Linked DNA regions of Homo sapiens: region 1 is linked to region 2. Evidence: fine-mapped expression QTL. A gene starts in region 2. The other region holds a variant in brackets. All regions are shown on one strand. Distances are from middle to middle.

What was found. PIP is the estimated chance that this variant, and not a neighbour inherited with it, causes the effect. A credible set is the group of variants that fine-mapping cannot tell apart.
Region 1: its variant is the best candidate, but not a certain one, in a credible set for the expression of MIR3945HG in whole blood (INTERVAL, PIP 0.50).

What each region holds. Positions count from the first base shown.
Region 1 is chr4:184,769,289-184,781,181 of GRCh38, forward strand. It overlaps ACSL1 (acyl-CoA synthetase long chain family member 1), which reads right to left. Exons shown (of 21, transcript NM_001995.5): 5 at 11,044-11,145; 6 at 7,596-7,695; 7 at 7,196-7,374; 8 at 4,555-4,587; 9 at 4,375-4,426; 10 at 3,793-3,866; 11 at 1,111-1,188. Among named protein-coding and RNA genes, the nearest start is that of CENPU, 41 kb to the left of the region's middle. The variant G/A (reference allele first, on the strand shown) is at 6,279.
Region 2 is chr4:184,849,451-184,861,343 of GRCh38, forward strand. MIR3945HG (MIR3945 host gene) reads right to left here and starts at 6,202. Exons shown (of 3, transcript NR_132989.1): 1 at 6,019-6,202; 2 at 1,045-1,149. It overlaps MIR3945 (microRNA 3945), which reads right to left and starts at 1,660; the gene lies at 1,563-1,660. RefSeq lists a silencer at 1-41 and an enhancer at 1,110-1,179.

The DNA.
Region 1 (11,893 bases), 80 kb before region 2:
ACTGCATGATTTTTTTCCTGTCTAGTACAAACCATGCTGGCAAGCCATATGGACCTGACAGTTTGCCTATTTTAAAATTTAAAAAGAAAAGATTCAAAAGATGACACAAGGGAAGTACAAATGTTCTCTGTCTTAGAAGCAGAAACCACGAGAAAGGTACACCATGGTTCACTGTTTAACAATTACAGCTCAGAAAGCTTTTGTTCAGCGTGGCCTGCCTTCTAGGCACACCTCTAAAACTCGTTAGGTACAGCAACTCATGTGAGATTGCTTTATAAACCCAGAAGACTCTGAGGTGTGCAGGAAGTAGAAGGAACAGATGGCAGATGGGATCTAATCGCCTTCGATCCTTTGGGATGAGCAAATCCGACAGGGCAGCTGTCATCCAAAGCATCGGCTGATAGTCACCTCTGTCTCCAACACAGCAGAGGGCACACAGCTAGAGCTCAGTAACTACTCACTAAATGAATGAATGGTGCTCATTGTTTTTTCCTACAGCATAAAATCCAAAATTGTCAAAGAAGGAAAAAAGGTGGTTCTTGGTCAGTTTTAAAATTAGTCACACAGTTGATTACAGGGAGCCTAGGCAAAGGTCAACTCAAGGATCATCCTCTTTCTCCAAGGGCACTTAGAATATTGCTGAAAAAATTAGTCGCAAGCCAACTTGTGCATTAGGAACAAGCACAATCAAAAATAGAGACTTCTCACAGAACGGAAGCCTCGCTGGGCTTTGTAGAACTGAATTAATAATGACTTTACCTTTATAGTTGGTTTTTCTGGACTCATGTCCACATTAGTATCCTTCAAAAGTCTGAACTCCTAATTTTAAAATGAGTGATTAAATTCCAGTATCCTGTTCATACTCAGAAAAAGAATTTATATTCTTTCAAATAATCTGCACCATTTCTAAAACGGGGCTGAGCAGAGAATTCTCTATAGGGATGACAGTCCGCACGCCACACTTACCTTCAATAACTGTTCATAAATGTGAGCAAGTGGTAAATATGAAATGTGTGTGTCACTGGCACTCAAGGGAAGTGCTTTCTGTAAAACACAACAACTTAGCAGAACATACACAAACAAGCAAGGAAAACAAAATTAAATGCCTACCTCTACAACTCTCTCAAACATATGGGCGAGAGGCAAGAAAGATATCAAAGTATCATCTGGGCAAGGATTGACTGTATTCTGTAAGCAAAGACACCAGCAAGGCAGAAAAGCATTAAGACTCCCAGTGAAGGGGAACATCGCACACCAGGGACGGTTGTGGGGTAGGGGGAGGGGGGAGGGATAGCATTAGGAGATATACCTAATGCTAAATGACAAGTTTATGGGTGCAGCACACCAGCATGGCACATGTACACATATGTAACACACCTGCACGTTGTGCACATGCACCCTAAAACTTAAAGTATAATAATAATAAAATTAAAAAAAAAAGACTCCGAGTAAACTTCCATTTTATTTCTGAGCACATAGTACCTCAACACTGAGGAGAAACGGCTTTTGCTTATGGTCTGCAATTTCTTCTCACCAAAGAATAAAATGAAAAACAAGGGGCATGGTGGCTCACGCCTGTAATCCCAGCACTTTGGGAGGCCAAGGCAGGCAGATCACTTGAGGTCAGGAGTTCAAGACCAGCCTGGCCAACATGGTAAAACCCCATCCCTACTAAAAATACAAAAATTAGCCAGACATGGTGGCACATGCCTGTAATTCCAGCTACTCAGGAGGCTGAGGCAGCAGAATTGCTTGAATCAGGGAGGCGGAGGCTGCAGTAAGCCGAGATTGCACCACTGCACTCCAGCCTGGGCAACAGAGTGAGACTCTGAATCAAAAAAAAAAGCAATACTTTAATTATTCAAACAAAGTGGAAGTCACTCCCCATGACAAAGTAAATCCACTTCAGGGCTTTAATCAAAACAAGGAAAATTTTGCTCAAATTGGAAGGTTAAGGGATTATATGCTCTAATCAGTTAGTATTTCATCACTACAGTATCCTAGTACCCAGCAAGTTCAATTTTACCTTAAGAAATACAGGACCCATTTCAACATAAAATTGCATTTTATGTTGTTAAGGGAAAGGAGGAAAGAAGATAAAAGAAGGTGGATTTCCAAGGTCCTTAGAGTATTTTGAGTTTGATCAATATTTTTAATACCTTAAAGCCCTACTTTACATATCACAATTTGTTTAATGCAACCTCAGATCTGGCACCCAGGAATTTGCTCTCCTATAAAATGCTGATCATGATGGGTCCACAGACAGATTAAGTTTGGACATCTGGTTTCCCTCAGAATGGGCCTTACTTAGGGCAGGCACAGTGAGGGTTTGTATAGAATATTCATGTTATTAACATAAAGAATTCTGGCCAAAACAGGGGGTGTGCAAGAGCAGCTGCTGTCATACCAACTAAGAAATGAGGGCATTGTCGTTACCTAGGGGATGATATACCAAGTTCTGAGCCATGCCCCTTCCTTTCCTAAAGCTGGGTCACCCTTAATAATAATGTGACAATGGATGAAAGCATCAATCCTGAGCAAACACAGCAGCCCCAGAAGCACTGGATGTGGGCTGAGCATGCTATAATCTCAGCTGGATTTTATTCAAGTCTGACAGGCATCCCAAGTAGTACTTCTCAGGATGAAATTGTTATATTAATATAATGAGAAATCGGACTCCATTCTATCTATACTTTTCAACTTTCTGACTCAGAACAAAAATATTGTCCATTATCATGATTAGACATCTTACAAAGCTGAGAAGATACTGATATTGTAATTGATTTGATATTGTAACTGACTTTAAACAAAGTTCTGTAATCATTTGCCTCAATGAGCCACCAATGCATTTTAAGTTTTGTTTGAAGGCCAATTAGGAAATTAAAATTTCACTTTGGTAAGGTACTAAATGTTGAACTCTGTTTAGAAAGTATACATCTTTAAAAAGGGCATTTGGAAAGTGTGAGCCAAGTAAAGTAAGTGGCAAGATCCCTCAAAGATCAGTTTTCTGCAGCCACCAAACATGTCCATTCCCCAAAGCCATTAAGCTCAGGCTCCTGCTACAAAAATCAGAGCTACAGAATACTTCCAAAGAGACTGCAAAAGCCAATTATGTTAAATGTAAAAAAGAGTATAAGGAAAAGGCATATGGTTCAATAAGCACCTTTTTAAAAGGCAAGTTTGGAATAGGCTGTTGGTGTTATGGACTGAATCACATCACCCCCTTCTAAATTCGTATGTCAACATCCTAACTCCCAATGTAGATGGGGCCCTGCTGTGACTGGATAGACTAAGACACTGGATAGTAAACTTTAAAAGCATGGGAAATTAGCTGAAGTGCAAGGCTTTACTACTTCTAGTGCAATGGAAGTCACACTGACCACAACAGATAATAATCATTCAAAAACTTTTAACATATCATTGCCAATTTAAAATAAATTATTTCCCAAATACAGGGACGCTGGATAAAAACACAAGAGAGTCCATCTCTTCTCTGTCCTTTCTTGGACATGTTTCTAGGGCAATATCCAAATAGAGTTTCTCTATATAAATGTTGCAGTGAACTTCATCTGTCAATTCACCTTAATTATCATAAGGCAAGGGTTGGCGATTAGGTTCAAAGTGAAAAAAGAGAGAAGGTGGACTTGGGCCTAAAGTTCTGACCTTACCCATATGTCACATCGTTTCTAAATGCCACATGGACCTAACACACTGGTGCCCACCTTCAGCACTTTCATTCTCAAGGACTAATGTCAATCAATGAGGAAAGATGACGACATCCCAAAAAGTTACCTCTGTTGCTTTCACAAAAGCTGAACAATCGCTCACTATGTTTCGGTGAGTGACCATTGCTCCTTTGGGGTTGCCTGTGGAGCACATATGAAGCAGAACAAAGTTAAAGAATGACAGAAATGAAGGAGGCCCAGAAACCTCACATAATTAGGGCTTCAGACACCTCTACTGTTAGATATATCGTGAAAACCAAATGTTGAACACTAAATTCCTAAGCAACCTGCAATCCTTACACTGACTTATCTTTAAAAACCTTTATTAATATGGGCACATTTTAAAGGGTATATACGTAGTCATAAGAGAAGAAAAACCAGAAATTTTCTTCCTGGGAGCCACCGATATAGTCTGTCCTAGGAAGACAGGTGAATCTAATATCACCCTCAATAAATGTTTGAGGAATTATCCGGCACTCTTGGACTCTGAGAAGATCTTACAGAGCAACAAGAAGACAGCACTTGAACCGCTTCCTTCTCTTCTGCTTTTGGTCCGTCTACTGTTAGCTGATAAGTCATCCAAAAGAGGTAGGGGAGAGTCCAGACCAATGGCTGCCATATGTAGAAGCAATTCTATCTCAAAACTCACCTGTAGTTCCACTTGTGAAACAAATTACTGCAAGATCTTCAGGTGCTGGAGGCTAAAGATTAAAAAAAAAAAAAGCTGGTATAAATCAGAACAGAAAAGAGAACTATAAGCCACAAGGTACCAGGCTAGATATTGAAAACTACAAAGAGGACAGAGCAGGGTCTGACACGGTGTGCTTACCTTGGGCTTCCGTCTGTTGGCTCTTCCCAGGTCCTTAATTAGAAGAGAAAAAAAGTCTTAAATGGAAACGTTTTCTAACTGTAAAGGATAAGGTCACATCGAGTCACTTAAAGCTGGCTTTACTGTGGGGTTCATTCACACCTGGCTCGAAAACAGCATAATTTTCTAATTAAAGAAACTATGGCAGTTTTAATTAACCAGAACCAAAATATTTATTCATTGTTCTGAGAAGCCATTTTCCAGTTACCTCTTCTCTTACATAAAACTACATAAACGGTATTAGGACTGGTCTTTGAAATAGGATGTATTAAAAAAACAGCAGCCAAAGTCTTTACCATGCATTTCTGGTCCCCACTTCCACTTCTTATTAGGGCCTTTAATAAAGCCCTGTTCTTAACCATAACGAGATACTGCAGATACTTCGTAGGTTCCTCAAATCAGAGCACAGCACTACCTCACCCCCACATTCTGCACAACTGACATCTGCAATCTGGGAAGAAGAAAAATCAATCTCTGCTCGATTGAAATGCTAGGCATTTTGGAGAGGCTCAAATATCTGCTCAAATATCTCCCCTCGTAGAGTGGAGATAGGATTTGGGAGCCCCCAATTATAAAACAGGCCACAGCAGACCCTCTAAGACTCCTTCCTGAATGGACTTGAAGGTTAAGAATGACAGAAGCATTGCGCGGGGACAGCATTTCCCAGCGGCAGGCTTCCAGTCACTACCACTGATGGGGTTCGGTTTACTGCATTAGGGCAGTCTTGGTGGCCACTTTAATATCTATTAATTTTAACAAATGAACTATTTATATTCTTTTCCTATTCAAATGGAACAGCTTGAATGAGGATATGGAATGAACATGCCATTGAACACGCCATTGAACATGTTCAATTCACGTGGAAATTAGATGGGTGTGCTCAGGGCTTAGTGAGTTTCTGCCCAGCATACATTAAGTTTTCAATCTTAATTACATTTTAAATGATGTAGTGACAGACCACCGATTAAGAACAGGAACTAATATATCCAATTAGAGGTCAGCCAAAAGCTAAAGCAATAATTCTGTACATTTTTTTCAAAATAACCTTTATTAGCTCCAGATTTCTATTTGTCTATTAAAAATTCTTACATAACTTCTGGAGATGCCCAATTCTTCAAAAACTGATGTTAAATAAAATAAAGCACCAGTTACATACAATTTGGCTCTTAATTTATTGGGAACAAACATTATCCAAATTAGTGCACTGTTGCCGCAAAAGTTTCACAGCCTTACATCTCTCTTACAGTATCACTTAGGAAAAATACTGCAATTATTATTATTTTTTGAGATGGAGTCTCGCTCTGTCACCCAGGCTGCAGTGCAGTGGGGCGATCTCTTCACCTTTTGCTCAGAATATTTTTAAAAACTAAGTACAGATCATATTAAACAGGTAAGTGTAAAACAATGTCTTCTATAAATTAATATTTTAATATAAACTTTATATTATAATCTTCAATCAACTAAATAATTTTTAAATTTCAACATTACTTCTTTATCATACAGCAGTCAAAAAACACCAGAAAAATTCTTGCATCTGTGGGAAGGTAAGGGAAAAAGAGATTACATTATAGTAAAAGAGGGTTAAAAGTAAAAAAACAGAAGTGGGGAAACACTAGGTAAGAAGCTATAAAACCCCAATTCAACAAGGAAGCACCCGGGTCAGCACTTGCGGAATCACGTTCGAT[G/A]CTACTGAGAGAGAGAGTTGGGCAGGGGCGCACACATGCACAAGAGAGAAGGTTCTGTTAGAACACCCGCGCTTCCCTGTGCCTACTGGGTTCCTCAGGAAAGGTTCTACAGATCCTTACTTATAGCCTCAAATTCTTTGTAGGAGGAGGAAAACTACACATAAAAATTTAAAATCCTATCTATAACAGTTTCAGAAAAATATTTCTAACACCTTCAGAAAGAGAAGGACTGACTCTGTTTTCCTATGACTTGTTATGATATGTATATGAAAAGATCTTCCTCCGGCCATGTTCCTTGGATGGAACTCTAATCCAAGTCCAACTGACGGGGATCAACTTCTTATATCATCTGACATCAAGCACCCAAGCTGAGCATGGACCACCACGCTCATTCTCCTGGAATGGCTGCCTTTAAACTTGTGATTGGTATGACTCTTAAGAGTCAATATGAAAACAAACCAAATCAAACATGCATGTTGGAAATTCACCAAGACTCTCCACGAGCCATCCAGGGAAAAGAACGATGAGGCTGATTTCTATACTTGGCTTGGCATTAGAGACAAATTAGTAAGTAAAAGGCATTAAAGCCCAAAGGAGACACAGAAACTGAAAGTTCCACCTGCCTGAAGCTGTAATTCCCATTTCTGGCATTTCCGGGCACAGCTTGTCAGTGCTCTGGAATAAATATTGGAGTGCTGAAAGCACTTGGGTAAGGTGTGAGGTGTTAACACTGGGCACACATGTAGAATCCTTTTTCCAGCAATGAGACAGAAGTTTCTGCTCTCTTTCATGGGTTGCGGAGGCAACCGGCCAGCGCTGGGACTGCACCATAGCACTAGATAGCACTGGATAGCACGTGTGAGCCAACACGGCCCCAGGGAAAGCCTTCAGAGAAGGGAAGGAGGCAGGGCACTCACCTCCATCGCCTTCATGCTGGTGACTTCCACCCCACACCTCTGGCCTCGTTCCACCAGTTCACTGCCGTAGGCATCCATGACAACTATGATTTTAAGGCCTGGTATTAACTTATTTTCTACACCCTCTAATAAGAGTTTGGCCTTCTCTGGCTTGTCAACAAAAACCAGAGAGAGTTCAGCTGTAAATGAAGAGATACAATGAAGAATAAGCTCTGGGATGTTAAAAGATTCACTCTGTCATATCCAGCACAAGGATACTTGAAGTACTACATTCTTTGAATAAAAAGGTAGATATATATTTACATGTAAAATCTTTGTCAAATCAAATGTAAGCAAATGTAAAGTCACTGAACCTAACCAATAACTATGCCAATAATCCAGGCAAAGATCACAGACGTACCTTTGTTGACTATGTACGTGATGGCTTCATTTCCAAGGGTATCATAAAGTGGAACGATCACCATCGAATAAGCAAAGCATCCTTGTTCAATAATCACCCACTAAACAAACAGTAAAGGTCAGGGAGAGAAAACAGGATGTCATCATGTAATCAATAAGGAGAACAATACTCAAGAGAGATTCAAAGTGAAAACATTTGACGCAGCAAAATTAACATCTGTGTTAGCTACTACTCTGTGCCAGGTGCTATAAGGGATTCAGAATGAGAACAAAACACATGCCCCCTTCTTAAAAAGAAATTAAGGCCAGGCACACTGACTCACACCAGTGATCCCAGCACTTTGGGAGGCCAAGGTTGGGGGAATCAGTTGAGCCCAGGAGTTCAAGACCAGCCTGGGAAACATGGCAAAACCCTGCCTCTACAAAAGTTATCTGGACATGGTGGCACACACCATGTCGCAGCTACTTGAGAGGCTGAGGCGGGAGGATTGCTTGAACCCAGGAGGTTGAGGCTGCAGTGAGCTGTGATCACACCAGTGCACTCCAGCCTGGGTGACAGAGTGAGATCCTGTATGTATGTATGTATGCATGTACAAAGAGAGGGAGGGAGGGAGGGAAGGAAGGAAAGAGAGAGAGAGAAAGAAAGATGAGAGGACAGAGAGAGAAAGAGGAGAGATTGAGAAAGAAAAGAAAAAAGGAAGGAAAGGAAAGGAGAGAAAGAGAGAAAGAAAGATAAATTAAAATCCGCCTGAAGAATTGAGGCAAATATGTTAAAAGATAATTAGCAATAATTATCAGACAGGGACTGACCCAGAGATAAGAAAGCCCACCATCGGCCAAGGTAGCTACAGATGCTACTGGGAGGGTGTAACTGAGATTGCCTTTGGAAAGAGAAAGAAAGAGAGAGAGAGAGACAGAGACAGAGGGAGGCAGGGAGATGCTAACAGAGGGGATGGCAGGATCAAAAGCAGGGGTAGTGAGAGCGATCTGACTGGCACAGATGGTTCTGGCTGGAGAGCACGGAGCAGCCACTGAGAGTTTCTCAGCAAAACAGCGGCTGTGGGGCTCAAGGAAGACCCCTCTGGCAGCAGGGCACTGTATGCCCTGGAATAGGGGAAGAAGTACCTTGTCTAGCAGCAAAACTGTTTTGATAAAATCCCTCTAGAAAAGTGCAGGAAAGAAGTGAGACAATAACTGGCCACACTGCCACATGCAAGATGCAGTAAGATGTGTCTGAAGGCACTGGCCACATAGCCACTGCCCTACCTACTGGACAAAGGTGAAAGATCACTCTTTCACTACCATACCCAGGGGTACCCCACTGCCTCCGGCTGCACCTTTCTAATGAAATCATCTGCAGAACTCTGACACACAGGACAGAAAAAGGCACAGCCGGGGGAAGGGGGCACAACCCACTCACATCCACTTGGCCTGGAACTAGGCTTCTGAGTTTCGGTTTTTTCCCAGAAGGAATTTTCAGCCAACAACATAGAAATCAGGTCCCAGCTCCTTAGGCACATGTGACGCATGAGGAAGGCTGTCTTTCCTGCCACTCCACCACATGAAAATGCTCCACTCCCAGACACAGGTGTGAACGTGGGCATTCCCTTGGCCTCCCCGCCCCTATTTCCTTCAAGATTCTACTCAGGTGCCACCTCCAGGGAGCCCTCCTTGACTGAGCTCCCATAATCCTTCTGCCCTGCGCCCACACTTACCACTTGACAGAGAAAGCACCGGTGTTTAGGTCTGTCTTGCCTTACGTGGTACCTCAGGAAGAGAGGCCGAGTCACTGTGCTTTGGCACCCCAACACAGTGTCTGACATATAGTGGGTGCTCAGCAAACATTTGTTGAATGAACTCATAAATACAGGAAGGAACCTATTTCTTATTTGTTTTGCAGTTCTAGATTCATGATAAAATTCCATCAAAACAAACATTTTGATGTGTTCATTTGGGATGAAAAAAACTAAATTCTACAAGCCCAGTCACAGTCCAGCTGTGGAGAATGCTGTTTTCCCCTTGAAAGACCACAAAACTCTAAGAAGCCATCTTTATTTATATAAAAAAAAAAAAGTCAGTAGCACAGGGATTGAGTCAGCATGTCTTCTGGACACAAGCAGGTATAAGAATAAATTCGATTTCTTCAAGCCAGATGCTTCCATTTTTCTAAGCCAGCTAGATCTACTAATCTATTGAGTCATACCATAAGCAATACTTCCAAAAGAGCTGCTCATTTAAACTCAGTTTCTGATATGTTTTGGCTGTGTCCCCACCCAAATCTCAACTTGAATTGTATCTCCCAGAATTCCCACGTGTTGTGGGAGGGACCCTGGGGGAGGTAATTGAATCATGGGGGCTGGTCTTTCCCATGCTATTTTTGTGATAGTAAGTTTCATGAGATCTGATGGGTTTATCAGGGGTTTCTGCTTTTGCTTCTTCCGCATTTTCTCTTGCCGCCACCATGTAAGAAGTGCCTTTCACCTCCTGCCATGATTCTGAGGCCCCCCCAGCCATGTGAAACTGCAAGTCCAATTAAACCTCTTTTTGTTCCCAGTCTCAGGTATGTCTTTATCAGCAGCATGAAAATGGACTAACACACTTTTACACACTGGTTTACAGAAACCGTGCTGGGCTTAGACCACCAATGACAGACTGCCCAAAGGAAGGCTGGCTAGCAGTGAGTACTGTCCCCATCACCCATGGTATTTTAAACTCTAGAAACCAACCAGAGGGAAAGCCTCATACCTTTCAGAAAGGAAAAAAAGGAACCTGCTATTGACAAAAATGTATCTGAGTCTCTCTATAACTTATTAATGCCATTTTTCTAACCACAGAGGTGACTCTTAAAGTAAAAAGACTCCTTTGTTAGTTATCTGTTCTAAGGATTTTATTTGGGAACCTGGTTTAAAAAAACTAAAATAATCCCCCCAAAAAAGTGATTTCTTTTTTCTCTTAAAGGCGATTAAAAGGCCCTGGTTCAGGTTTTCCTTTCTTTTTTTTTTTTTTTGAGACGGAGTTTCGCTCTTGTTGCCCAGGCTGGAGTGCAATGGCACAATCTTGGCTCACCGCAACCTCTGCCTCCCGGATTCAAGCGATTCTCCTGCCTCAGCCTCCCGAGTAGCTGGGATTACAGATGTGTGCCACCAGGCCTGGCTAATTTTGTATTTTTAGTAGAGATGGGGTTTCTCCATGTTGGTCAGGCTGGTCTGGAACTCCCGACCTCTGGTGACCCACCCGCCTTGGCCTCACAAAGTGCTGGGATTACAGGCGTGAGCCACTGTGCCCAGCGGCCCTGGTTGAGGTTTTCATATGTGTAACTTTCTAAGGTGTAACGTAAAGCTATACTTTTAGTAGAAATCAGACTACAAAATCTGGTCTCTAGCAGAAGTTAGGCTCTTATATCTGAGAATTCTCAAAATCATGCATAGCAAGTACCTACTGGTTCATACCTCAGGTCTATTTTGAGCAAAGATGCCAATGAACTGATCTGGGGCAGTCTTGAAGCCCTTCTGGATCAGTGCTGAGCCTATGCACTCCGACAATTCTGCAACCTAAAATGGAGAGGAAAAAGTCAGAAGCAGCATTGGGCCCCAACTCCAGAAACAAAGCTGACCAGACGGCAGGCTTGTATCTCAGCCAGCAAGCAATGCTGCACACAGAAACGGAGAGGGAACATGCAGGTATTCCTTTATTGATAGATTTTTTGGTAAAACACAAGGTTTTATTCACAAGAAATCAGAATTAAGAGAACTGACCGCAGGGTTCCTTCTGCAAAGAAAATTAATCTTATCCCAATGGCTGCAGGTCACAGACAATTATATGGCAGGGCTATTTATACATTTTTTTCTATTTTAGTTTTATACAATTTTAAAAATGATAGAGAGATGGATTTGTTTTATTTATAAAGCAGCCAAAACTTGTTTATTTGGTATAAACACAGAAACAGCAACTTTTGAGAGACCTATAAAAAATAAGAGCAAGCTCTTATCCTTAAGTTCTACAGTTCCATTCTTGAGAACGTATTCTTAGGAAACAATTCAAACTCAGGAGGAGGTTTTTAAAAGCCTACATACAGGCCAGGCACGGTGGTTCACGCCTATAATCCCAGCACTTTGGGAGGCCGAGGCAGGCAGATCACTTGAGGGAGTTCGAGGCCAGCCTGGCCAACATGGTAAAACCCCGTCTCTACTGAAAATAAAAAATTAGCCAGGCATGGTGGCGTGAAACTGTAATCCCAGCTACTCAGGAGGCTGAGGCAGAATTGCTTGAACCCAGGAGGCGGAGTCTGCAGTGCACTGA
Region 2 (11,893 bases):
TACTCCTATGGCTTACTGACTAACTCAAACAGCATTGTGACACTAAAGTCCAGGACCAGAGGTCATACTGTGGTATGACTGTATCTCCTAGTACCCAGAATTCGCATGAAAATATATGGGTAGTGGAGAAAAACAAGGTTTGAAAAGTACATCGCCAGAAGCTAGTCTGTGGAGAATTCTTCCAATCAGATATAAAATTACAAGGACAATACCTTTGTGTATAGTTCTGGCTTTTAAAATCTTTTTAATGTTTCACATATTCAAAGAACAAACTTAAAATGAATAAGGTCCGGCAAGGTTACAGGATTAAGAGCAATGTACAAATATTAATTGTATTGTATACAGTAGCAATGAGCAAACCAAAAATGAAATTAAGAAAGTAATTTCACTTAAGATAAAAATTCTAAAATACTTAGAAGTAAATTTAACAAAGATGTACAAAACTTATACTGTGAAAACTACAAAGCTTTGTTGAAATAAATCAAAGAAGAAACCAAATAAATGTAAAAACAGTCTATGTTCATGGATTGGAAGATTTAATATTCTCAAGATGTCAGTGTTAACATAACAAGATGTGTGTTATACTTTAGTTTTTAAAAAATGGCCAAAAACGTGGTGGGATAGTTGAATATGATTCATCCTTCCCAGACCCACATGACCTGAACACTGTGATGCGTTATAATGGCAGGGAGAGGAATTTTGGATTCAACCTGATCTGAATTGGAACCCTGGCTTTATTATTTACTAATGTATGTCTTTCCTCATTTTTTCTTGATGTTGCTGGTTCTGATTTTCTTCATTTGCTCAATAAGGATGATAAATAGCTACTCCTCAGGGTTGCTGTGGGGATCAGATATGATACGAGTAAAGGGCTGGCACTACTGGTTTCCTAAACCCAACTCCCTTCCATCTTGCCCATGTCCCATGCAGGTATTGGAAAACCCAAGCATTGACTCTCCAGACCAGCCTCGCACCTAAGAACGCCGTGGGATGCAGTTTCAGACAGTGAGAAATCTGCTGGGGATGCCTGGGAAAGGGACATACCTGGCAGGTGCCGCTCCATGGCCTTCTTGCTGCCTTGAATTGGGACATGAGCCTGAGTCGCAGCAGCCGTCTTGTGACTGAGAGGTGGCAAGCAGGAGGAAGAGGCTAAGAGAATAGAGACACTGTTGAGCTGCTGAAGCACAGCAAGCGGCCACTTCTCTATGCTTCTTGCTATTTGACTGTTAAGCTAGTGCAAGTTACTTTTCTGGTCAGAATGAATTCATAACTGAAACATGCTTTAAAGTATGACTATTATTATTAAATGCAGCATAAGCTTTCCATAGCTGCTACACGATCACACCCACTGCTGTCTCAGACTGACCAGTGGCCGACTAAACATGACAGCAAGTACTGTTGCCAGCCTCTGCCTTCTTATACTTGTGGAGTTTGTTTAAATCTAAATTCAGGACTCACCCTGTTAAATTTTATCTCCTTAGCTTGTCCCCTTCTTTTCAGAGATTTGCAATTCAAATTAGTATTATAACCTCAATTGATATATGGCTGTGGACCAGTCAGGAATCATTGAATCATCCCCCACTTTGGAAAGCATAAGAGGCTGTAATTGCATTTTATATCAACCCTCTCCTATGCCCTCCCCGTCACGTGCATCAACATCTCTTTTCTCTCAGAAAGACCTCATCTTATTTGAGGTGATATTTGAGTACATAGTTCCTTTTAGGGTACTGGGGACCTTTTTGGTGGTAGGGTGGAGAGTGTGCACCACAGAGACTAGTCACCAAGAGTCCCTGCAGTTAAGTCTGCGTATCCTGTGCTGGTGAAGGGTGGATGGGCTTTATGCAAATCTCTGCTTGGCTGCAGAATCTCCCAGTGAGATGAGCAAGGGTGCTTTGCAGTCAGTGTTGAAACCCCAGAAGAGCAGGAAATGATGCTGTTCCTGCCCAAAGGCAGAATGAAATGCAAGGAAAGGAGAAAAACATTATGACATAAGTATTAAGAAAGATGCTGTTTACGGGAACTCTGAAAGACTGGAATTCAGAGCCGCTACCAATTAAGAAAGTTAATGATGACTTGCAGCAGGTTTGCAGAAAGTGAAAGGAAGGTGAGGCTATTTAATTGCCACCATAACAGAAGAACTTGTAGAAAATAGGAATGGGATCACAATCATTATTAACTCATAAAAAATTTATAGGGTGCCATTTCTAATACGACACTGTGCAGGGATACTGCAGTCTAGCGTTACCTCCAGTTTAGACAGGCTGAAATACATACAGTTTCTCATCTGTATGAGATAAGGTGATATAAAATGAAGCTGATCGGGCTAGTTTATTGGATAAAACCAACAACGAAGGGAAATAAGTAACTATTTATACAACATGGTAACTATCTACATTGTTCATTAGCAGACGATGTTTGTAACTGGAGATGAAATGCATTAAGCATGTTTGGGAAAGGAATAAATGGGATGTAACCATGGAAGTCCTATGCTTAACCAGGGTGGGGAGGGGGGCAGGGATATAGAGAACTTCAACTAGACAGGCCTGGTGGAGAAAGTGTGTGTCTAAGAATTACTTGCAAAGTGAGCTGTGTCAGGGAGCATCCTGGTGCATGCTCCAAGATATGTTGGATAACAGTTGAGTACAACTCATGATGGAATTACAAAACTCCAAGATACAGTTGGATAGTTGGGTAACAGTTGAGCATCACCATGATGGAAGAGATGAAGAGACTTTTTGAATGTGTTTGAGAGGAGTGAAATGAATCCTACAATGATAATAATAATAATTGCTATTATTTTTTCAGACACGTGTGAAACCAGAAAAAAATAAATTAGGTGAAAGAATCTTCATTCCTGGTGACACCTTAGAAGAAGAAACAGACAATCTTGGATGGATTTGTTAAAGATCAGAGGATCCATAATGTCATGCAAAATGGTGGGATTGGGGGCAAACAGATCAAGTTGATGAGTGGGGTTAGCAACAGTGAGACCTGAAAGAGAAAACAAGTTAACAGAAGCCAGACTAAGTGCAGGACTAACCTGCACCCTAAGAGGGTGCAGGCTCAGGAACCAGTCCATGAGGAGTTGCACCATAGTAAGGGGTAGAGATGAACTGAAGCTCGCTCATGATTACCAGCGGTATTGGCCTCTCCAAGAACTAAAAATAACCTCCTTCTTTGTCTTGCTGTTACTTCCAAGCCACAGCCGAGTTCTCTCTCTATACTTACACCTCAGATGAATGAGCAGTGCCTGTGGCTGTGGCCAGTGTCTTTTATTCCCACCTGGTTCCTCCCAGTCTGTGTTCCATGTTGTCACTGCCCCAACTGCACAAGCCTTTTCCTAGTCCTCAATCTTTTCTCCCCACAGCAGCCCTGGGCACAGTAGACCTCCCTAGCCTTTTGAGGAACCTCTTCTGTTACCTGACTGCTGTGGTCTACGTGACCATCTTACCTCTTCCTCTGCATTTTCCTTGTGTCTGTCACTGACTCTCTCCCGTGTCCCGCTCCCCAACTGTGGGTGCCCCAGATGTGTCAATCCTCATTCTCCGATCTTCTCTCTTTATACTAGATTCTAATTCACCTTTATTCATCTATACTCCCAGAGTCAAGTTTTGATTATGTATATATAACCAAATGGCATATAACTCTATCTATCTATCTATCTATCTATCTATCTATCTATGCCATCTCATTTCATGTCTTCACGAAATATCTGTTAGCTGTTTTTCTCCAGATTATCATCCTTCCTTAAGTGCTGTTGTGGTAGCAGTGGTGGTGGTAGTAGCAGTAGTAACAGCAACAACCTCTATCATATAGTAAATGCTAACTATATCTCAGGTGCTTTAGTAAAATCTCATTTAAGCCTTTCAATGTTATACATTGATATTGCTGTTGAACACATTTTATAGAGGAGGAAACAATCTCAGCAGGTTTAACGGTGGTTCCCAGTCACACAGCTAACACAGAACACGGCCTTGAACTCAGATTTTGTCTGACTAAAGTTTGTCATCCTATTTCTGTGCTAAAGCTTCTACAGCAGTCCCTGTTGCTTACCAGGTGAGGCCCAGCATCCTCACGGACCATCCCGGATCTCCGTAACGTAGCTCCACTGATCTGCTCCAGTGACTGCCTTCTGCTCCCAGAGTGGCACCTCCTTAACCACCCTCACCTTCCTACGCAGTGAATGAAGTGCAGACATGAATCCTGAGTCTGCCATTTAGTACTTCTCTAAAACTGACTTCTTGTATTTGTAAAATACCCGCCTCACAATCTCAGGATTGCTGTGAGCATCGTATATAATGAGTGCAAAGGGCCCGGCATAGTGCAAGGGACATGATAGGTGCATAACGAATAGGACCCACTGAGGCTGTTACTCATATTTCTGCTCTTGTGCCTTGTTCGTGTTATTCTCTACATATGAAATGTTTGTACTTCCTATTGCTCTGGCCTGACAGTCCTTAAGGGCTAAATTCCATCTTTACTAAATGTTTCCTTGGCTCTAACACACATTGATCTCTCCCCTCCCCAATTCTGAATGCACTTTCTTTTTTCTTTTTTTTTTTTTTGAGACAGAGTCTCGCTCTGTCGCCCAGCCTGGAGTGCAGTGGCGCGATCTCGGCTCACTGCAAGCTCCGCCTCCCGGGTTCATGCCATTCTCCTGCCTCAGCCTCCCGAGTAGCTGGGACTACAGGCGCCCACCACCACGCCCAGCTAATTTTTTGCATTTTTAGTAGAGACGGGGTTTCACCGTGTTAGCCAGGATGGTCTCGATCTCCTGACCTCGTGATCTGCCCGCCTCGGCCTCCCAAAGTGCTGGGATTACAGGCGTGAGCCACCGTGCCCGGCCCTCTGAATGCACTTTCTATATACACCAGGTGGCTGGTGTTATCTACTGTCTTATTCTTGAATGGCTTTGGGTAAGCGAGCCTCATAAGTTACTGGTGAGCTTGCTTGTATTGCTTCTGTGCTCCTCTCAAAGCTACTGGCACACTGTACCAAAGTGATTTGTTCATTGATTGATGGAGAAATGTAAACATTGGGACAAATCAGAGAGAAAAAAGGGCAAATTGGACATTATCTTGTTCGATTTCAGTTGGCAGTCAATGGTTTGTGTTCAAATTATCCTACAGAGGCTTGAACCAGGAGGGGAGGTTCAGAAAACAGATGGTGGGAAAGAGAACAGATCTCTGTATTATGGAGCTTTGACTTTAAAATTATTTCTCTTAAAGAAGAGATAGACCCAAAAGGAAATGATCTGAGATAAATTTCCAGGGACCAGTAAGACAGAAGTACCACTAAATATGAAGAGGCAGTGGACTGGGAATAATGAGAGAAGACCCAGGCAATCATGCCTGTAAGTTACGATAAAGAAAACAGGAAGCACATTTCGACAGAAAAACCATACTTTACATTAAAGAAGTGAGATTGTGTCTGTTGCAAGAGTGAGAGGGAAAGCCCGCAACGACCTCAGGGACCCAGTGAATTAGCTCACGGGAAGCCCAGGGCCTCTTTTGCTAGCTGCTAATGAAGGGAATTAGATAACCATGTTATTTTGAAAGAAAACAGATTATGTTTATTGAATGATCTAAAAGAAGCGAAAAGGGCTAGGTAAAGATGCCATGTTTTGGATTCTGATGTTGGGTCACACCAGGGCGCCCATTCTTCTGTATTCACAAAATGCCCAAATAGGGAGAGGTCTTGCCAGGCGCGTGAACTCGCCACTGTGGCTGAGCAACAAAGGTACATTGAAAGGAAGCGTGTGTGTTTGTGGCTTTGAGCCCCTTTTCCTATTCTGCTGAAGATTAGGAAATTATAGGTTATACTGCTTGAAATGAAGACAGAGTAAATGGTAGGAGGGTTGTAAATCACCTGCGAAGCACCGTCTTCGACCATGCCATATAGCAAGGCTACCCAAAACACTCCAGTCTCTAATTTGTTCAACTTAAAGAATAAGAGGGATATGTCAGTCAGGACCTGCTAACTGCTGTATCAGACAACCCCAGATCCCTAACGACTTACCTCACAGTCATCAGGGGCTAGACAAGTGACCTTCCACACGATAATTCAGAGATACTGCTCCTTTCCTGTAGTTCTCCAGTCCTCAGCACAGGGTCTCAAGATCATCTAGCATCGACCAGTCAGCAAATGTCGGAAGAGGAAAGATAGCTTCCTTAGTCCCTAAGAGACAGCATCTCGTTTTCACTACATTCCACTGGTGAGAACTACTCATATGGCCACACCTAGACACAGCGGTGACTGGAAAGTTAATTTGATTGTGTTTCCAGGAAAAGGAGATAGGCTTGGTGAGTCAGTCTCTCTAGAGGAAAATATGGAACTGGGTTGGATTAAAAAAAATCCAGGCTGGGCGCGGTGGCTCATGCCTGTAATCCCAGCACTTTGGGAGGCCAAGGCGGGTGGATCACCAGAGGTCAGGAGTTCGAGACCAGCGTGGCCAACATGGTAAAACTCCGTCTCGATTAAAAATTAAAAAAAAAAAATTAGCCGGGTGTGGTGGTGGGCGCCTGTAATCCCAGCTACTCAGGAGACTGAGGCAGGAGAATAGCTTGAACCCGGGAGGCAGAGGTTGTAGTGAGCTGAGACTGCACCACTGCACTCCAGCCTGGGTGACAGAGTGAGACTCCGTCTCAAAAAAAAAAAAAAAAAAAAAAAATTCAGGTAATGATTTATATGTTTCTATCAAGCAATATGCCTATAAACATGGAATGATTGAATTTTCAGTTTCAAATACATGTTTTGGGTTGTGAAGACTCAAAAAGCTTGTGGGTCTCTTTGTTTTTGTCAAAGTATATGAATAAACGAGGATTGCAGAAGTTTACTTGTGGAATGAATGCATTAGTAAATTAATGAAGCTTTCTCCTGTACTGAAAGAAGAGTATAAGGTCATGACTCATGGTCATGAGGTAGGAAATAATTCTGCTCACCAAGAAACAAGGACATTTTAAATATCTAAAAAAGCAGAAATGAGAAAGGAAGCATGAAAAATAATCATTTAGCCAACAGTTACAGCACCTACTGACAGACAGAAAGTACAGGGCATTGACATAGTTTAAATCCAGTGACTTCCGTTTTTCCTAATAGAATCAGAGTGATAATGCATTTTAAAGGTTATTTTTATTATTTCATGTCTCCAAACCATTTTCAGAGGGAAATTATCATGGCTGTCACAACAGTAGCTTAATACACAAGGTTGATGGTATTTTACAAAAGTGTCACAAGTGGATTTTAAAGTTAAAAAAAAAAAGGGGGGCTGAGTGCAGTGGCTCATGTCTGTAATCCCAGCACTTTGGGAGGCTGAGTCGGGCGGATCACCCGAGGTCACGAGTTCGAGACCAGCCTGGACAACATGGTGAAACCCCGTCTCTACTAAAAATACAAAAATTATCCAGGTGTGGTGGTGCGCGCCTGTAATCCCAGCTACTCTGGAGGCTGAGGCAGGGGAATCACTTGAACCCTGGAGGCAGAGGTTGCAGTGAACTGAGATTGCACCACTATACTCCAGCCTGGGTGACAGGGGGAGACTCCATCTCAAAAATAAAAAATAATAAATAAGGTTAAAAAAAAGATCAGTATGATATAGCTTATATGAATAGAAAAGATGATTCTCGAACAATAGCATGAGGCATATGAGTTGAAAATAAAGCCTAGAGGTCTTCACCTACAGCAGAGAAAATTTTCACTCTCCCCCACCCCACAGAAGACAGACAGACCTACCCCAAAATTAAAATGACATTAGCCCCATAAGCATGTTTCCCTCCTCAGGTAACAAAGAAGATACCTCAGTTCTAAATCCACACAGTTTTAAAGATGTCATATATTTAATGCTCTTTTTTTTTTCTTTTTTTTTTGAGATGGAGTCTTGCTCTGTCACCCAGGCTGGAGTGCAGTGGCACGATCTTGTCTCACTGCAACCTCTGCCTCCCGGGTTCAAGCAATTCTCTGCCTCAGCCTCCCGAGTAGCTGGGATTACAGGTGCCCGCCACCACATCCAGCTAATTTTTGAATTTTTAGTAGAGACGGGGTTTCACCATCTTGGCCAGTCTGGTCTTGAACTCCTGACCTCGTGATTCACCTGCCTTGGCCTCCCAAAGTGCTGGGATTACAAGCGTGAGCCACCATGCCCGGCCTAATGCTCATTCTAACTAGAAGGAAGTAAAGCCTCAGAACAGTAAAATGATTTGCCACATGTCACAGTTGCAATAAACAGTTCAAGTCCACTCCATAAAGAGATACTAGCAATCCTACGGTTTGTCGAAAGCCAGGCTTCTCGGATAACAAAATATTCTAGGTTCTTTGACAAAATGGGTGATGGGAAGTAAGGAGGAGGGCCTAGTTTCTGAAGCTGCAGGTCATGTAAGGAGCTTGCCCTCAGGCTGGCAAGGCCTAGGAATGGGGGGTGCAGGCGGCCTTCAAGTGCCTGGGGGCCAAGAGGAAGTGCTGCTGTCCCCTGAAATCTTTTTATGGGAGGAACTGACACTGTGGGTCTGTTCAAGTCCCCAAAATGGGGACAGGCTGGGGGCTGAGGACACAGACTCAAGGCCCCTCATTGGCAGTCATGGCCAGGCCAAGGAGCCCAGCTCAGGGCTGCTGGCTTATTCTCAAGCCCCCCAGGGATGTGAAGAGGGGTGCAGAGACTCACGTTTTGCACCCACGGAGTCCAGGACTGGGGTGTTAGAAGTGGGGTAGATTTAGTGGACACAGCAGATCAAGTGCATGTGAAGAGCGCCGCAGCAGCTCTGCATCTCCCAAAGGTCCCAGCTGGTCCTCTGAAGACCCGGGATCACAACTCCACATCGTCACCTCGGGGTCCCAAAGGTCCCAGCTGGTCCTCTGAAGACCCGGGATCACAACTCCACATCGTCACCTCGGGGTCCCAAAGGTCCCAGCTGGTCCTCTGAAGACCCGGGATCACAACTCCACATCGTCACCTCGGGGTCCCAAAGGTCCCAGCTGGTCCTCTGAAGACCCGGGATCACAACTCCACATCGTCACCTCGGGGTCCCAAAGGTCCCAGCTGATCCTCTGAAGACCCGGGATCACAACTCCACATCGTCACCTCGGGGTCCCAAAGGTCCCAGCTGGTCCTCTGAAGACCCGGGATCACAACTCCACATCGTCACCTCGGGGTCCCAAAGGTCCCAGCTGGTCCTCTGAAGACCCGGGATCACAACTCCACATCGTCACCTCGGGGTCCCAAAGGTCCCAGCTGGTCCTCTGAAGACCCGGGATCACAACTCCACATCGTCACCTCGGGGTCCCAAAGGTCCCAGCTGGTCCTCTGAAGACCTGGGATCACAACTCCACATCGTCACCTCGGGGTCCCAAAGGTCCCAGCTGGTCCTCTGAAGACCTGGGATCACAACTCCACATCGTCACCTTGGGGTCCCAAAGGTCCCAGCTGGTCCTCTGAAGACCTGGGATCACAACTCCACATTGTCACCTTGGGGTTGTAGACCCAGGCAAGTTGTTTGTACTCATGACGGTGCAGCTCCTTTTTTTGAAAGGGGGGAATAAGACAGCTGATCAGTAGGCCAGACCTCAGTGAGCTCACTGTGTGCAAAGTTCACACCTGGAGCAGATGGCAGAGTTGCTGGAGGCTCAAAGGCTCTGAGGCACGTGGAAGTGGCTTCAGGGCAGGGCAAGAGAGGCTGTTACACTTTCCAGTCACCTCCTCTCTGGCACCAGCAACCCATTCTTCCAGATTTTTCCTCACAGTTCCATTATACATTTTCTCCCCATATGATAAAGTGTTGGGTTAGACTGAGGCCATTAAGAAAGGGCTACCTACCTAGATAATATCATAACCTCTATCTATTTAAGTAAAATGTTACTGAAATGTTACTAACAGTCAACATTATTGAATCTTTCATCAGTTGCCAGGTTCTATGATAGATGCTCTTTTTTTACCTTCATTACCCCTCCTTCGGTAACCCCACAACCTGGTGTCTATGACTAGCACCAGTTTACAAATGGGGACACTGAGACGCACAGAGGTTACAACCATCAAATGGTGGAATTGGGACTTGAACTCAGGAAGCCTGAGCTTTATAACCTCCAAACTACATAGCCTTCCTTAGAGAAAACTACTAGATCATGAACAAGTCAGAACAGAGAGTAGAGAAGAAATTTTCCATGGAAGAGCTGATAATTGGAGATTTTGGGGAGAGGGAGATGAAAAGAATTGAAATGGAGAAGAAAAATCCGTTTTTGTGGGGGAAAATATAGAAAGTAAGATTTGTCTTGGAATGAGATTAAAATGAAACCATCAGAGCTGGTTTTATTTATTCATCATATACTCATAAATTAAACATCCATTCATTAGCTAAAATTAAACATCCTATCAGCCTTGAGGGGACTCACAGTCCAAAAACCAGATGTTCCTACACTTCCAAAATCTAGCTCAATGATGAGAGAGGTTTCTGACAGAGAGGGAGTGGAAGTTACTGCCTAAAATAGATCCCTAGGCCAAGGGATATAGAAGAATAACAGTAGCCAAAGATGCCAGGGACCATCGTGTGGATCTCTTTCATCTCATACTCCTGGGGCGCAGGCTGCCAGAGATGAGAGAGAGCTGTGGGGTCTGAGGGATTCCTCCTATCTCCGCACAGAGGAGGTGGGGCGTGGGGCGGTGTCCCTTTGCAGCCATGATCAAGGAAGCAGAGTTTCATTCATCTGGGTTAGACTGCCTCTCCTAATATCAGCCAAGATCAGACAAGAATGAACAAAAACTCAGGGTCAATTAGTTGGGTATGGAGAGGAAATGTAGAAATGAGGCCACTGGGGACTTTTTGCATTGCAAAGCCCTGAAATTCTCGGTTTTGCTATGTTGCAAGAGGAGCCCCAAATTAGCAACGATTTCTTGGAGGAAAGGTGCCCAGCCCTTTCATTTATTAACCTCTGCCTGATATTTTCAGACAGCTTTTCGAATCTCTAGGAGGGTTATGGCCTGGTATAAGCAGAGGAGGGGTCAAGACAATTATCCAAGAGCTATTGCAGGACTATTGTTAAAAGAATAAAAATCCTAGCACCAAAAAAAGAGAAGCTCTGGATCTTTTGAACACCGATGTAAACACCCACTGGGTGGAGTGAGGGGGACTGACAGATCACTAGAGTCCGGATGCCTCTGGAAGCCAGAAAGCCCAAAGCATAGTCGGGAGACAGCAGGATGGCGGACTGAGCAGGCGCCACTCTCTTGCTCCGTAAGTTCCGATCCTCCTGCATCCCTCCCTCATCATCATCGGACCTGGTCCTCTCTGTATTGATGAGGTGTGTGCTCACGGCATAAGCCCAGGAGGAAGAGGAAAATTAACAATCATCTCAGGCCAACATTGATTTCATAATTGCCTCCCTTCTTCCATTTATATTTTCCCCATACATAAAAATACAATGCCCATTGGAAAGATTTGGAAAATATATAAAGGGGCAAAAAAGAAAGAATCTTCTTATAACCCCAGTGTGCGTTACACCCTCCACTAGAGCAAGGGGCTGTTTGTCTTGTTGACCAAGCTCTGTCCCCAGAACCAGAAGAGTAACTGGCACAAGTAGGGGCTCAATAGAATTATCTTTTTTCAATGAATCAATGAATCAATGAATACTCTGAGATTACATCTTAATATCTCATTACACATTGTCCTATATCTCAAAGCATGTGTTTTTAAAAAAATCACTCACACGGTTTTTTTCTACGCATTTTCTATTGTGGTAAAATATACTAACATAAAAGTTACCATTTTAGCCACTTTCAAGTGTAAATTCAGTGGCAGTGTTTCTTCACAATGTGGTTCAACCATTACCACATCCAGTTCCAGAACTTTTTCTGGAAAAAGAAACCGAAACTCTGTACCCACCAGAGAATAATTCTCCATTGGTCCTTCCC